Regions from separate parts of the Homo sapiens genome. Here regions 2 and 3 are each linked to region 1. Evidence: fine-mapped expression QTL. A gene starts in region 1. Each other region holds a variant in brackets. All regions are shown on one strand. Distances are between the middles of the regions.

Region 1 (4,241 bases):
CTAATGTAGTAGCTAGGCAATAGACACATAAACACGTAAATATATACTAGAAAGCCAGCTAGTCAAGGGCATGCTTATCGTTGTTTTTTGGTTACCCAGAATCTGAACCTCCATCCTATGTTTGAGATTCCCTACCTCATGGAATCTGGTGGATAAGCAGAGCCCATGGTCCATTACATAGAATTTGAAAATGCCTGATAGTGGTTTTATCAGCCTCTCTTGTAGAAGGAGCCAAGGCCTGTGGCCAAGGCTCCACCAGCCAGACACACTGGCCCACAATTTGAGTTAGGAACCAATGACTCAAGGACAAAGAGACTGAGAAAGCCCTCATAGGAGATGGCAGCAGCTGCAGAAAGATGGGGATTCCAAGGGTGCTGGTGACAGCGGGTTCCAGCAGTGTTAGTATCTGGGACGGTAGCATTGGTGACATAACCAGTGGCAGCTGGGGCAGCAGAGATCCCACCAATTCGTGCAATGCGTGCACTCTTCTTGGCTATAAACCACTAAGCCTTCCCAAACATTCCTGGAGCTGTCAAAGTCTACACATAAATCCTTCTTCTACTTAAACCCGCCAGAGTTCCTTGTGCCCTCATCTAAGAGCTGAACACAAGTAGTAACAAGTGCTCAATCAAAAGGAAAGCCAGACGAAGGCATGGAGAGTGATGAGAGGCTACCTTAGGTAGGTGGCCAAACTCAGCCTCTCCATGGATATGGCTTTTAAGTCTCTCCAGAAAGCCCGAGAGCAAGGCCACCTGAAGACCTGAGGGAAAGAACTCCAGAGAGAGGACACAGTGCAAAGGCTGGGCAGTGACAAGCTGGGGGGCTGAGGAATACCAAGAAGGCCAGTGTAGCCTGAGCTGAGACAGAAGCTAAGTCAGAAGGACAAGCCAGGGCCACAGTTGGTGAGGCTGGTTAGATTGTCGTGTGGAGTTTGAGTGTCATGCTGCGTGTGAGGGAAGCCCCAGCTGGTTTTAAGCAAGGTGACACGGTCTGGTAGTTGAAAAGATCACCCCGGCTGCTGTCAGAAGAATAGTCTGTAGCAAGACAGGAGTGGAAGCAGAAAGATCAGAGACTCTTGCAGAGGTTCAGGAGCCAGGTAGTATGGGTCTGATCCCTCTAGGCCGAGGGCGTTTGAGTGGCGGTGGTGGGAAGAAGAAAGATGAGGAGTAGATTTTGAAGGTAGAGCTGAGAAGCCTTGCTGTGTGTTAGATGAAGGGTGTGAAGGAAAGAGACAGTTCGGGACCGAGCCGCTCTCTGAGATGGGGAAGATGAAGAGAAAGGCAAGCTGGTGGGTGGAGAAGTCAGGATCAAGAGTTTGGCTTTAGATCTAGTGAGTGGGAAACACCAATGAGGTGGAGTGGAGACAGAGTCTGCAGGGGGATGTAAGGACCTGGATGAGGTGGGGGCGAGCTGGGCGCTGGAACTAAGTGTGTGGGATTCCTCGGCACGGGGAGGAAATGTACAGCCATGAAGCTCAATATGCTCACTCAGACGAGAGTGTGGTTCGAGAAGGGGGCTCAGGACAGAGCGCTGGGGAACCAGGGATGAAGAGATCACAGCGAGGAAGAGAATCCAGCTAGGGAACTGCAGGGCGGGAGGAAGAACACAGACTACGGCGTCCTGGAAGCCAAGAAAAGAAAACAGGGGCCTTGGCAATGACCCTAGGCACTTCCAGAGGATGCTTGTATCAAGCAGGTAAGGGGACTGGGGCTCCCAGAGGATGGGCCACCCCGTTTCAGTGCATGGCCCGGCGCCTCTTTAGAAGAGGAAGCCCCTGGATTCCAGAACGTGCTGGCTCCACCCAAGGCAGACGGCAGTGAGGCCACACACTATTCCCAGCCCCTTTCTCTCTGAAAAGAGCCCTTTGTAACTTCTTTGAGAAGGAAACACCTCCGTCAGGGGAGGAACATTATTTGCTTCCTGTTAGAACAGACTTTTACTTAGGATCAAGCTCGGTGTCAGCCCCATCCCCACAGGGAGCAATAAGGGAAAGAGGAGGGAGGGGGCCGCAGACACTCACTTGTGGGGGCTGGTTTCGCAGGAACGGCTCCGGAGAGCTTGAAGAGGGGTAGGCTGCAGGCCCACAGCCGCAGTCTCTCTCAGCTAGAAACCCTCCTCCCTCCTCTGCCAGCCTGTCCTCCCCGGGCTCCGTTCGAAAGGCCTGGGAGATAGGGAGAAGGCTGGTCAGCCTGGGCGGTTAGTGGCTGGTTTAACACTTCCTTGCCTGCCAGCCCTTTCCCAGGAAGACTACAGCCAATCATTCATTCATTCAAAAGCTCTTTGCCAAGCACCTACTCTGTGCTAGGTCTGTGCCCAGCATGGGGACACAGTATTAGGCAAAAAAAAAAAAAACAAAAACCAGACATCCCCCATCTGCCCTGAACTTACAGTCTAGTGGGATAAATTAAACAAGGCACGCAAACACCTCTACAGCCACAAATGTGATAAGGCTCTAAGTGAATATCGCACATGACAGTGGCCCTGCTGAAGGCCAGGCAGAGGTTCCTTCTTGAGGAAGGACGTCTCTGAATCTCCAGAAGCCAATAGAATCTGTAGCAGCAGAAGAAAGGGTCAGGTTTCTAGAACTGCCCACTACGACTTTAGAAGCTGACGCATCTCTGTTATGCCGCGGCTGCGATGTTTTAAGTCCCCAAAGCCCAGAGCACATCGTGGAGCATGGAAGTGGTTCACTGAGAAGCTGAATCTAGTCCTGGGGCTGCTGGTGTGGAGGGTGTGTTCCGCTCTTGGGGCAGCAGCAACAGGTGCCGTGAGAGGCTCAGAGCTTTTGAAGCAGAAATGGCAATACTCTACATCTTCAGCAAATATTTGGGAGTCTTTTGTTAAAAGAAGAGCAGAATAAATATCTATGCCTCTTGTAAAACCCAAAGGAAAGCTCTCAGATAGGCTTCTTTAGGGCTATGACTATCTCTGCAGCTTCACTATACTGAGTTAAGTCTGTAGAGCATCTGTAACCCTAGGCATGTGTGTCCACAACCTCCACACGTACACAAGGACACTCCTACAGAGGACAGGCCGTGCGGACAGTTAGGGGAGGACAGTGGAGGCCGCTTCAGTTCACTTCGGTGCTTTGGATTCAAGTGTTTTTCTGTTTCATTTTCTGGGTAGCTGATTATTAAGCTAAACACTCCTTTGATGGTTGAAAATACATTAGTCCCTTTTCTTGCACGAATCTAATTCACCAAAGCCTATTAAAGTGCTTTTGGACCAATGAGGAAATTTAATGCTCAAGTATTTTATTCTGAATTCCAATTTTCCTTGTGTTATGATTTTACCTATAGGTGGTTGGGTTGATTGTATGGTAAAGATGAAAAAAAGCATATTTGGAAAGAACATGACAATTCTCAAGGTGTTTATACTACTTTACTGTATTTGATCCTTGCAACTGCCATGTGAATTAGGCAAGAAATATTTCAGTTTTACAAATGAGAAAACTTCTGTCCTGAGACATTAAGTGATATACTCAAAGGTCATATAATAATTTGTTTTGTTTTTATCTTGACTACCATACTCCTCTATACCACCTTCAGGACTCTGGAAGTCAGATATATGTGAGTTTTTTGTCAACTAAATTCATAGTTGTCTTAATATTCATCCCTTGCTAAAATTAAGGTGCAGAAATAAAATCTGTCTAATAGAGAAATATAAATCCATCTTTTGTCTGGATAATCAAATTTTACTATATTTTGTTTTAATCCTGAGAATGAAATTTTACAAATAGCTCAGGAGGTTTTCCCTAGAGTTCCAAATAAAAGTGTGTGGATCATATACACGTTCTGCTTAATCACATGACGGTTCCAAATTTTTAATTTCAATCCTTCATTACGATGAAAATTTTTGCGTTTTTTTTCCACCAGCTCTTTGTTTTGTTTTTCAATGGCTCAGGAAAGGAGAGGGGTGTGGGAGACTCTGTCTCTTTTGACAATCACCAGCGCCATCTACTGTCAAGAAATAAAATCGTGACTCATTGTTAACGCGTCAATGAACATTAGGGCTTAAAGAGGGAAAGACAATTTTATACCCCAGTACTTACTGATAAATATAAGTTCATGTACACATATTTTTATCTTATATTATTGTATTCTTAAGCAGCCTATAGGGAGAATACAATGAACTTAATATATAATTATTTATGTAATTCTTAAGAGCACTAACTTTGGAAGAGGATAAAAATGGGGTGAATTTCAGCTAAACCACTTAATAGCTACGTGATTTCTCTTACC
Region 2 (4,241 bases), 110 kb before region 1:
GACCATTCTAAGGGATTTCTCTTTTCCATGATCAAATTCTTTAGAAACCATGAATTCTTCTGACAGTCTGTTATTTCACAAAGGGACTTTCTAAAAATTGGCCTACGTTGGTAGCAGATTTGCACTATTGTCAAAAACTACCCCCATGTGCTGTGCTTAACTGTTTGGGTCCTAATCCAAGCTCTACCACTCCTATCTGTGACTTCGGGTAAATTACTTAACCTCCCTAGGCCTCAGAATAACAATATCTACCTACATGCACCTGAATCTCTTAGAACAATGCAGCAGACAGTGAGTGCTTAAACTAACCTTGGCCATGATGACAATGGTGGTGGTGGTGGAGATGATGTGCTAGGTGCTTGACTAGTCTCTTTAGATATAAGCGAATCCTCACAAGTATCCATTTCCCTTTTACAGATGAAAGAGCAAGTCTCAGAGGGAATAATCAGCCCAAGGCCATAAAGTTAATAGGTGGCAGGGCAGGCATTCAAGCCCTGGTCTTTCTAATCCGGCCTGGAGCTCTTTATTGCACCACCAGGTTACTGGCCCCAGACATCAGCAATATGCATTAGGAAAGTTCTTTATAATTTAGAATCATTTCACAAACATTACTTGTCATTGTTTAGCCTTTCCTTGAATCTATAGGTTTTGATTACCAGCATCACAATGAACAGATGAGAACATGCGTTCAGATAGGATGAAGCTGGCTTGAGTTTACCCACCTAACAAGTGTGGACAGGGACCTGGCTCAGCCTAGGTTACTCCGCCTGTGGAATGAATGCTTTCTATAGTCCACCATGGCTTTCAGTGTCCAATCTGAATTCCTTTCCTTGTCCATCAAGACTGCCATCTGTTCCCTCAATGCATGCTTTGGTTTTTCATTAAAACTCCGATCAGGAGTCCCTTCTCAGCTGGTCAGCTCACCAGGTGTTCTACTTGGATCCTCTGCCCTTGCTATGCTGTTTTCACCATGGTCTTGACAAGTTTTTCTTCATAACTGACCTTCAAGGAAGATCCTGTGACTGCCTAGGTCACGGGGCTGAGATTTGACCCAGCTGGATGCAGAGACCCTCCAAGCACTTCCCTACACTGCTGTGTTCTCAGAATCACTGCTCCCTTAGCCCTGATGAAGGAACCTTTAGAAGGCCTGCTTAGTGGCTCTGAGCTCTCTACAGGAGAAAAGACCATTTCTGAGATAACCAGTATTTGACTGAAGTAGCAGTGGTTCTTAACAAGAGCTCCTTAAAGTTGTCTTCAAAGTAAGCCAATAAGCAGACACAGCTGTTGGTGAGAACAGGTATAATGCATAAGTGTCTCAGTTCTGAAGAAAACAGGTGGTTTACATGACTAGCTTAGAAAAGAGTGGACTGGGTTGTATTTGAATGTTGAAATTACAAAGTCAAGAGACTATACCCTGTATCATAGAAGGGCAATACATTTTTATTGAGGATAGTTATCAAATCTTTATTGAGTACCATCTAAATGTTGTAAACTCTGCACTGGGCACCATGGATATAGTAGTGAATAAGACGGACAAAATCCCTGTCCTTGTGAAGCTACATCCTACTAGAAGAGCTAGACTAAAAATAAATGCATAATATTATATTTGATAGTAATAAATACTATTCTCCAGAAAAATAAAATGTGGTAAGGAGATAGAGATTGAGTGTGTGTCAGGGGTAGGTATCATGGTGACTGTTTTTATAGGAAATGGAAGTATCTCTGGGGAGATGATTTTAAAGGTAAGAAGGAGCTGGCAATGCAGAGATCTGGGGGAAAACATTCTGGATTGCAGGCGTAGTAAGAGGAAATCTCCTGAGCGGAAAGGAACTGGGTGTGTTCATTAAATAGCAAGAAGTCATTCTATATGTTAAGTTCCCTTAAGAAAGTAGTGTAATTTCTCTGACTCTCATTTTCCTTACCTACATAAAACTCAGATGTCAACTGTGGCCTCTTCCGCTCTCAAATTAGGGAAATATTGCACTAATGCATCTCCCCAACCATCACCCTCACTACAATCCTGTAGCCAATAAAAGTCTGGCTGGGCGAGGTGACTAGCGCCTGTAATCCTAGCACTTTGAGAAGCCCAAGCAGGCAGATCACTTGAGGTCAGGGGTTCGAGACCAGCCTGGTGAATGTGGTGAAGCCCTGTCTCTACTAAAAATACAAAAATCAGCTGGGAGTGGTGGTGCGCACCTGTAATCCCAGCTGCTCGAGAGGCTGAGGAAGGA[C/A]AATTGTTTGAACCCGGGAGGCAGGTGAAGGTTGCAGTGAGCTAAGATCGCACCACTGCACTCTAGCCTGGTGACAGGGTGAGACTCCGTCTCAAAAAAAAAAAAAAAAAAAAAAGGCCCAAACCCCTGCCTCTCAAAGATTTCCCAGTTCCCGATCCCATATATACAGTTTTGTCTCTTGAGGCTTTGACTGCAATGGGAAACCCAGACCCTTTTATAAGAACCACAGAAACCCCCTCCTAGGACTTGTGTGCATAGCAGATGAGCTGAAGATTTGGGGCTGAAGAGAGACCTGAGAGGAAAACAGCCAACCTGTACAGGAGGTACAGGGCTGACGGCTCCCATACAGCAGTGCTAGGAATTCTTTGGCTCTTTCTCAGGGCTAGCCTCTAACTTTCTGGCTCCCTCTCCTCTTCTTTTATTTCTCTCACCTTTTCCTTCCAATAACAAAACAACAACTTTTTCTCTTTTCTCCTGCCCCCATCTCTTTTGACATCACAAAATCTCAACCACCCCCAAAATATCTTTCAAAGTATTTTCTTGAACAAATACAGTGGCAACCCTCAACATAATTCTGGAGCCAGTTTTAGTAAAAGGTATTTTTCACATCTTTGCATTTCAATTGCAGGCAATTATATTGGCTTTTTTGGGTTATTGGAAGGATGACACAACTCTGTACTGGGCACCATGGATACAGTAGTGAATAAGACGGATAAAATCCCTGTCCTTGTGAAGCTTCATCCTACTAGAAGAGCTAGACTAAAAATAAATGCATAATATTATATTTGGTAGTAGTAAATACTATTCTCCAGAAAAATAAAATGTGGTAAGGAGATAGAGACAGGAGATGGACAAGCTTTAGTGGCATTACTGGCATACAGTAAATATTTGATTAACAGAGGTGAGGATAAGTGTGGTGACTGCAGTGGTAGTGGTTCTTATCAACCCACTACTTGTTTGAGGCCAGACAATTTTGCAGCTTAACTTAGAGGAGCTAAAGATATGAAGAACTAAGAAAGTTCTTGCCACAAAGAGGGAAACAGAATATTGCAGGTACACTGAAAGGCAAAATGAAACAAAACAAACACAAAATTCTGGAGACTGGAGGTAGGTCAAAGAGAATGGAGAAGAAAAGTGATAGATGCAAAGCTATGAAACAAAAATTTAAATAAGCTTTATAAGAATTCAGACCTAAGTCTGAAACCTGGTGGGTGAATGGCACTTACGATCTTTCCTGCACTGTGGAATACAAATTTGCAGAATGCAGTTGAAAGAGCACAAAATGACTTCTGGTTAAGGATCACGGTGTATAGGCATTAATTCTTACCCTCCCCTTCTTGAAAAATCTCAAACTAAAAACAGAAAAATATTTTAGTTGCCAATGAAATAAGGATACGACTGCAATCTTAAACCACAAACTATGTAGCAAACCTGCCAAATGCTGTGAAATCTGGACCAAAATGAGGAAGAACACTAAAAACTAACAACATATCCTCAGACCTTGGGCAAGAGGGACATTTCCCCAAAAGAAAGTGAGATTACCCTGAAATGCCATCCAGTGATTCTTCAAGGGAGGTAAGATCCAGGGGTACTGGGGCCATGGCAGAAGAGGACTCTTCCTTTAGGCTCAACTTGATACCACAGAACATGGCAGGCAGAAAAGCAGAGGAACCAGAGTGGTACCCGATTTTTATCCAATATTCATTCTCCTTGCTGTGGGAATGACCAAGGCAGAGAAAGTGGAGGAAAATTGCATTTTCCAAATTACCAACCTTTCCAATGACAAAAATTGCGGTGTGATATACAGTTCCAGAATAAGGAAAAGAGTAGATTTGGTGAGAGGCTATAGGAGGCAATATACTGTGTTCAAGTTTACTAACATCCCTCACTACTCCCCTTCCTCCATGGATGATTTTTCAGCAAGTATACAAGATGAATGACAATCTGAAAGAACCATCCCACAGACATGCTTTGAAATGAGAGAGAAAATAAAGAAGAAAGGAATGTAGG
Region 3 (4,241 bases), 97 kb before region 1:
AAAGCCACATCCTTTTGCTCTCACTTCAGACCCATCTCACCTGTCACCATAGCCCTTGCCAGGTGTGCAGGTGCTTGCTGCCCAAGGCACCTTTAGCTACCCTGTGCTCACACGAGCCTGTATAGAGACATCCTTTTGGGTTGGAATGAATCCCTCCCTCAGAGAGGCTGGGGGCATTTCTGACTATTTCAGAGCTTCTAGAATATAATCTCCCCTGCAAGCATTTGACTATGGATCCTCTGGGCAGAAGAGACTTGCTTCTCCATGCAGGACCTACTTGTCTACAAGGAAAGAAATAGCTCCTGATCTAGTGCCCAGAGTTTGTTATTTTTAACAGCAAAAATATAGAGAAGTTACTATTCAGAGCTTCTCTTCTGGCCAACACAGGCTATGGATGAGTGGAATGGAAAGGCTGCCATGTGTACATCACCACCTGCGTGGATTCAAGTCATGGTTCAGATCTGCCTCGGCCTCCAGGAAAATGGCTCTACACAGCCAGTACACGGGCAGCTAGAGACATGCTGGGTCACTCCATCAACAACTATTTACTGAGCTCCTGTCATTACCAGGCACACTTCTGGACTTTTTGTTTTGTGAATTAACCTTTAAAAAAGCCAGAGACATAGGGGCTATATTGCAGCCCTATGACTGACTGTGACCACATCCAAACCCCCCTCTCACCTCTGGCATTTATCAGACTCTGTACGGTGAATCTGGCCGTAGCATTTTCTGCAGAATTCAGAAGATGTCTGGTTTCATACAACTCCTCTCCACCCCTTCATTTCCATGAAGTTCCATCTTTAAGGTAGACTGACCGGGATGATCTGTCCGGAGGCTGCGACATCACTAGCCTTATCTTTTAATGTTGTTAATTCTAGCAGATGAGGTATGGGTATGTGGAAGCCGCTTTTCTTCTGAACCTAAGCAACAGCTGTAGGAACCATTTAGCCAGGAGGATCATCAAACCACAGATGACCCCTTTGGGACCCCTGAGAGTCAGGGGAGCACTCATCACTTCATTATGTCCTCAACACATCCTAGGCTGAGCAAAGGTTCTGAATGAAGAAATGCAGAGGTTGCTTGGACTTAGCCCGGGTTGTGGAGGAGACACTTCTTCCTTTCTCATCCTCACAAGGGGTCCTTACTCTGGCCCTACAGCAGCAGCACTAGAGGATCTGTCCAGAGCAAGGGCCTACTCTTTCTCCCTTGCTCCTGGTCTCTTCCCATAGAGCCTCCAGGCTGGAGTGGTGATGGGTGGTTCAAACTGCTCCTGTTACCGTCTCTGTCTGAGTCAGGGCTGCAGACCCTCCCCTGGGAAGCATGGCTGGAATTTCATACTTCCTTCAATCCTCATTCATTCATTCATTCATTCATGGAGTATGGATTGAGCTGCTACTGGGTACCAGTCAATCTCACTGGGTCCGCCTGGTGGTCTGCCAATCCAGATACTGAATACTTACTATGGTGAAGGTGCTATCAAGGTGAGGCCAGGCAGGCCTGTTCAAGATTTGGGACATCAAATGGCAGGGCAAATGTGAGAGAAGGCAGCCCTCGATGCAAGAAGCGATATCCGGCAAACCCCCAGGGCAGCAGTGGGGTCTGGGGAGAAACTTAACACTGAAGAGGTCCCTAGGATCTGTGGTCATTGCAACTAGGAAAGCTGGTTTGCAACCCTTCTTCTACATGCTCAGCACCACCTTAGGACCTAGCTTTTCTGGATTTGAAGGGCTGGTACCAGATTCAGAACAGACAATTTTCCTGGCAGGGGCCACATAGAGATCCATATGCTTAGAATGTTGTAGTTTATTCTTTGAGGTTAGTAGAGAGATCATAGCAACCATAACGTTTGGGCTTTGCCCTCGAGGTTTTTCTGTCTGTGGAAGTACTGTGGGTATTCTTCCCAAAAATACAATGGGGAGTTCAGGGTCAAGAGGAGCCAGGAATCTCTGAAAAATGGAGGCAAATGATCCCTGTTCTTCCTTCCTGCACAGTGAGGAACAATGCCCTCATCCTGCACCATTTCATCCTGGCTCAGGGATAGAATGTCCTCATCACAACATGCTGTTCTATCCCTGGGTTAAAGGAAGGAGAGATTAAATGAGGCCTACTGGATTTCCTAAATATTGCCTCCTCCCATTTCTTAGAGTCCCATAGACAAGGCTTTCCTCATAGAAGAGGCTTTCATTTTCTTTTAAATCACAGGGTTGTTTAT[AAGAC/A]AGATTAAGCATAAACTCAAATGCTAAATCATCTGATACTCAACAGTCTGATACCAAATATCTGAAGTAAAAAGCCTGTGACCCGATGATGGCATTCAAGTGATAAATCACTCTGATCAGAAAAGGATGCAAGAAAAGCAGCTGAAAGTCTGTCTCCCCAGCCACGTGGCTTTGATCTCTGGGAAAGTGGATATTAGTGCAGACAGCAGTTCATAGGTCTTGATTAGTCCGTTCAAACCAGTGACTATGATTTCTCTGTAGATACAAGCACAAAAAAAGTCAATAAACGTTGGGCTGAACTTTAAACAACTGTCTTTTCAGAGAAAACCCAGTTGCATACAAGGAAGATTACTGCACTAGCCTGAAGACAAATGTCTACAAATATTATACGCTCAAGTGCAGGGAGGAGTTTTGTTCAAGGCAGCACAGAAAACAAATTACTCTGGTCTTAAATAAGATCCTTTGAACGGGCAGCAGCAAATCAGTACAAATTAGGACAAATGCATTCTTGACTGATATAATTTCCTTATTCTGCCTGAAAAATGCCACCAATCAGACTATAGACAGCTATGTCCCAAAAACTGGGGCCTCCGGTTACATGGTGGTTGAGTCAATTTGGTGGAAGTTCAAACCCCTAAACCAGCTCTTTATTCCACTTCCTGGGTACTGGTCTTATATTTCCAGGCAGGCAATTGAAATTTGACCATGGTTTTATTTTGCATCTCTTGGCCAGCAAATGTAAATGCAGCACCCATAAAGCACTGAGTCCCCAGAGCCTGTGGCAGGGCCAGCAGAGACTGGATGTAATTGGGAACAAGAATGGTTGCAAGATCTGTTTTCCTGGGATGGTCCTGGCTTAGGACTATGGTTCTAGAGTCCCTTCCGGCTTGCATTTGCCACTCTCTACAGTTTCTCAGTTTGGAATGATGAATTACAGTCACTCTAGGGGAGATCATTTCCCTAGCCCCAGGCATTGTTTCAAAGAATGGATGTACATGGGGGCTTTTTGTTTTAGATCAAGGAAGAGTCTGTGCTTAGGCAGGTGGTGTTGAGTCTAGAGAGAGAGGATAGGCACCCACCCAGCCATGGGTCTTTTCTTCCCACAGGCACCTCAGACTGAGCACTGGAATGGGTGAGTCAGAGGCTGAAGGGGCCCTACTGATGAGGGGTCTTGTGAGATCTGGTGGAGAGGGGTAGGCTTCCCATTTCTGTGCTGAATGGAGAGGCAGCATCTGCTAGAGACCAGGGAGGTGCAGGGCCCCAGTGGCAGGGAAGCAGGTTCTTTCACAGGACTCCAGTTCCCTACCTCTCAGGGCTTAGCCAGAGAATGCACACTGAGCTTACCAGTAATACAAGTATTTTGGTAAAACCTGACTCAAATACTGTCATCATCTTCCGGTCCAGACTCCACTCCACTCCTGGACAGCAGCTAGTACTTTGTGTTTGGCCCTGCTTTTCTAGAACCTTCGTTTGGGGTACTTCTGTCTCCTACCAGACTGCAAGCTCCCCAGGGCAGGGAATTCATCTTTGCCTTACTCACACAACCTGGCCACACTCATTAAGTTCATTAGAGGGTGCCCAAGCAACATTGGTTGAATTAATGAATGAAACATAATGAAATACAATGCATCTAATTTTCCAGCTTGGCAGCAGCTGGCAAAACTTAAAAGCTGAAGTTATCAAGGAATGGGCTAACTCATAAAACACTTCAGCCCTCTTTACCCCTTTTTGGTCCAGGTAACACCGGTGATCACAGTAGCTCTTTGTGTGCATTGTTAATGACAAGAGTCTAAACATGCAAGTCTCTCTTTTTATCCATGATTTTTTTTTTCCTGAGATAGAATCACTTTATCATGCAATGAAGCTATATGAAGGTAAGATGCCTGAGAGAGTGTTTACCTTGCTAGAAAATATTTAGACGTGTGTTGAATGACTGATTTCGAGGTCCAACTCTGCATCCTTCTTCAAGAGACCTCTCGGGTGAGAGAGCAATGAATAGTGGCCCTTGGCTACCGTGTTGGGTCT

What was found. PIP is the estimated chance that this variant, and not a neighbour inherited with it, causes the effect. A credible set is the group of variants that fine-mapping cannot tell apart.
Region 2: its variant is the best candidate, but not a certain one, in a credible set for the expression of PIRAT1 in whole blood (TOPMed, PIP 0.73).
Region 3: its variant is the best candidate, but not a certain one, in a credible set for the expression of PIRAT1 in whole blood (INTERVAL, PIP 0.56).

What each region holds. Positions count from the first base shown.
Region 1 is chr2:37,873,723-37,877,963 of GRCh38, forward strand. It overlaps PIRAT1 (PU.1 (SPI1) induced regulator of S100A8 and S100A9 alarmin transcription 1), which reads right to left and starts at 2,141. Exons shown (of 4, transcript NR_110012.1): 1 at 2,021-2,141.
Region 2 is chr2:37,758,739-37,762,979 of GRCh38, forward strand. All of the region lies in intron 2 of LOC107985869 (a long non-coding RNA gene), which reads left to right. Among named protein-coding and RNA genes, the nearest start is that of CDC42EP3, 89 kb to the left of the region's middle. The variant C/A (reference allele first, on the strand shown) is at 2,232.
Region 3 is chr2:37,776,887-37,781,127 of GRCh38, forward strand. The region is part of intron 2 of LOC107985869 (a long non-coding RNA gene); the gene reads left to right. Among named protein-coding and RNA genes, the nearest start is that of PIRAT1, 97 kb to the right of the region's middle. The variant AAGAC/A (reference allele first, on the strand shown) is at 2,213.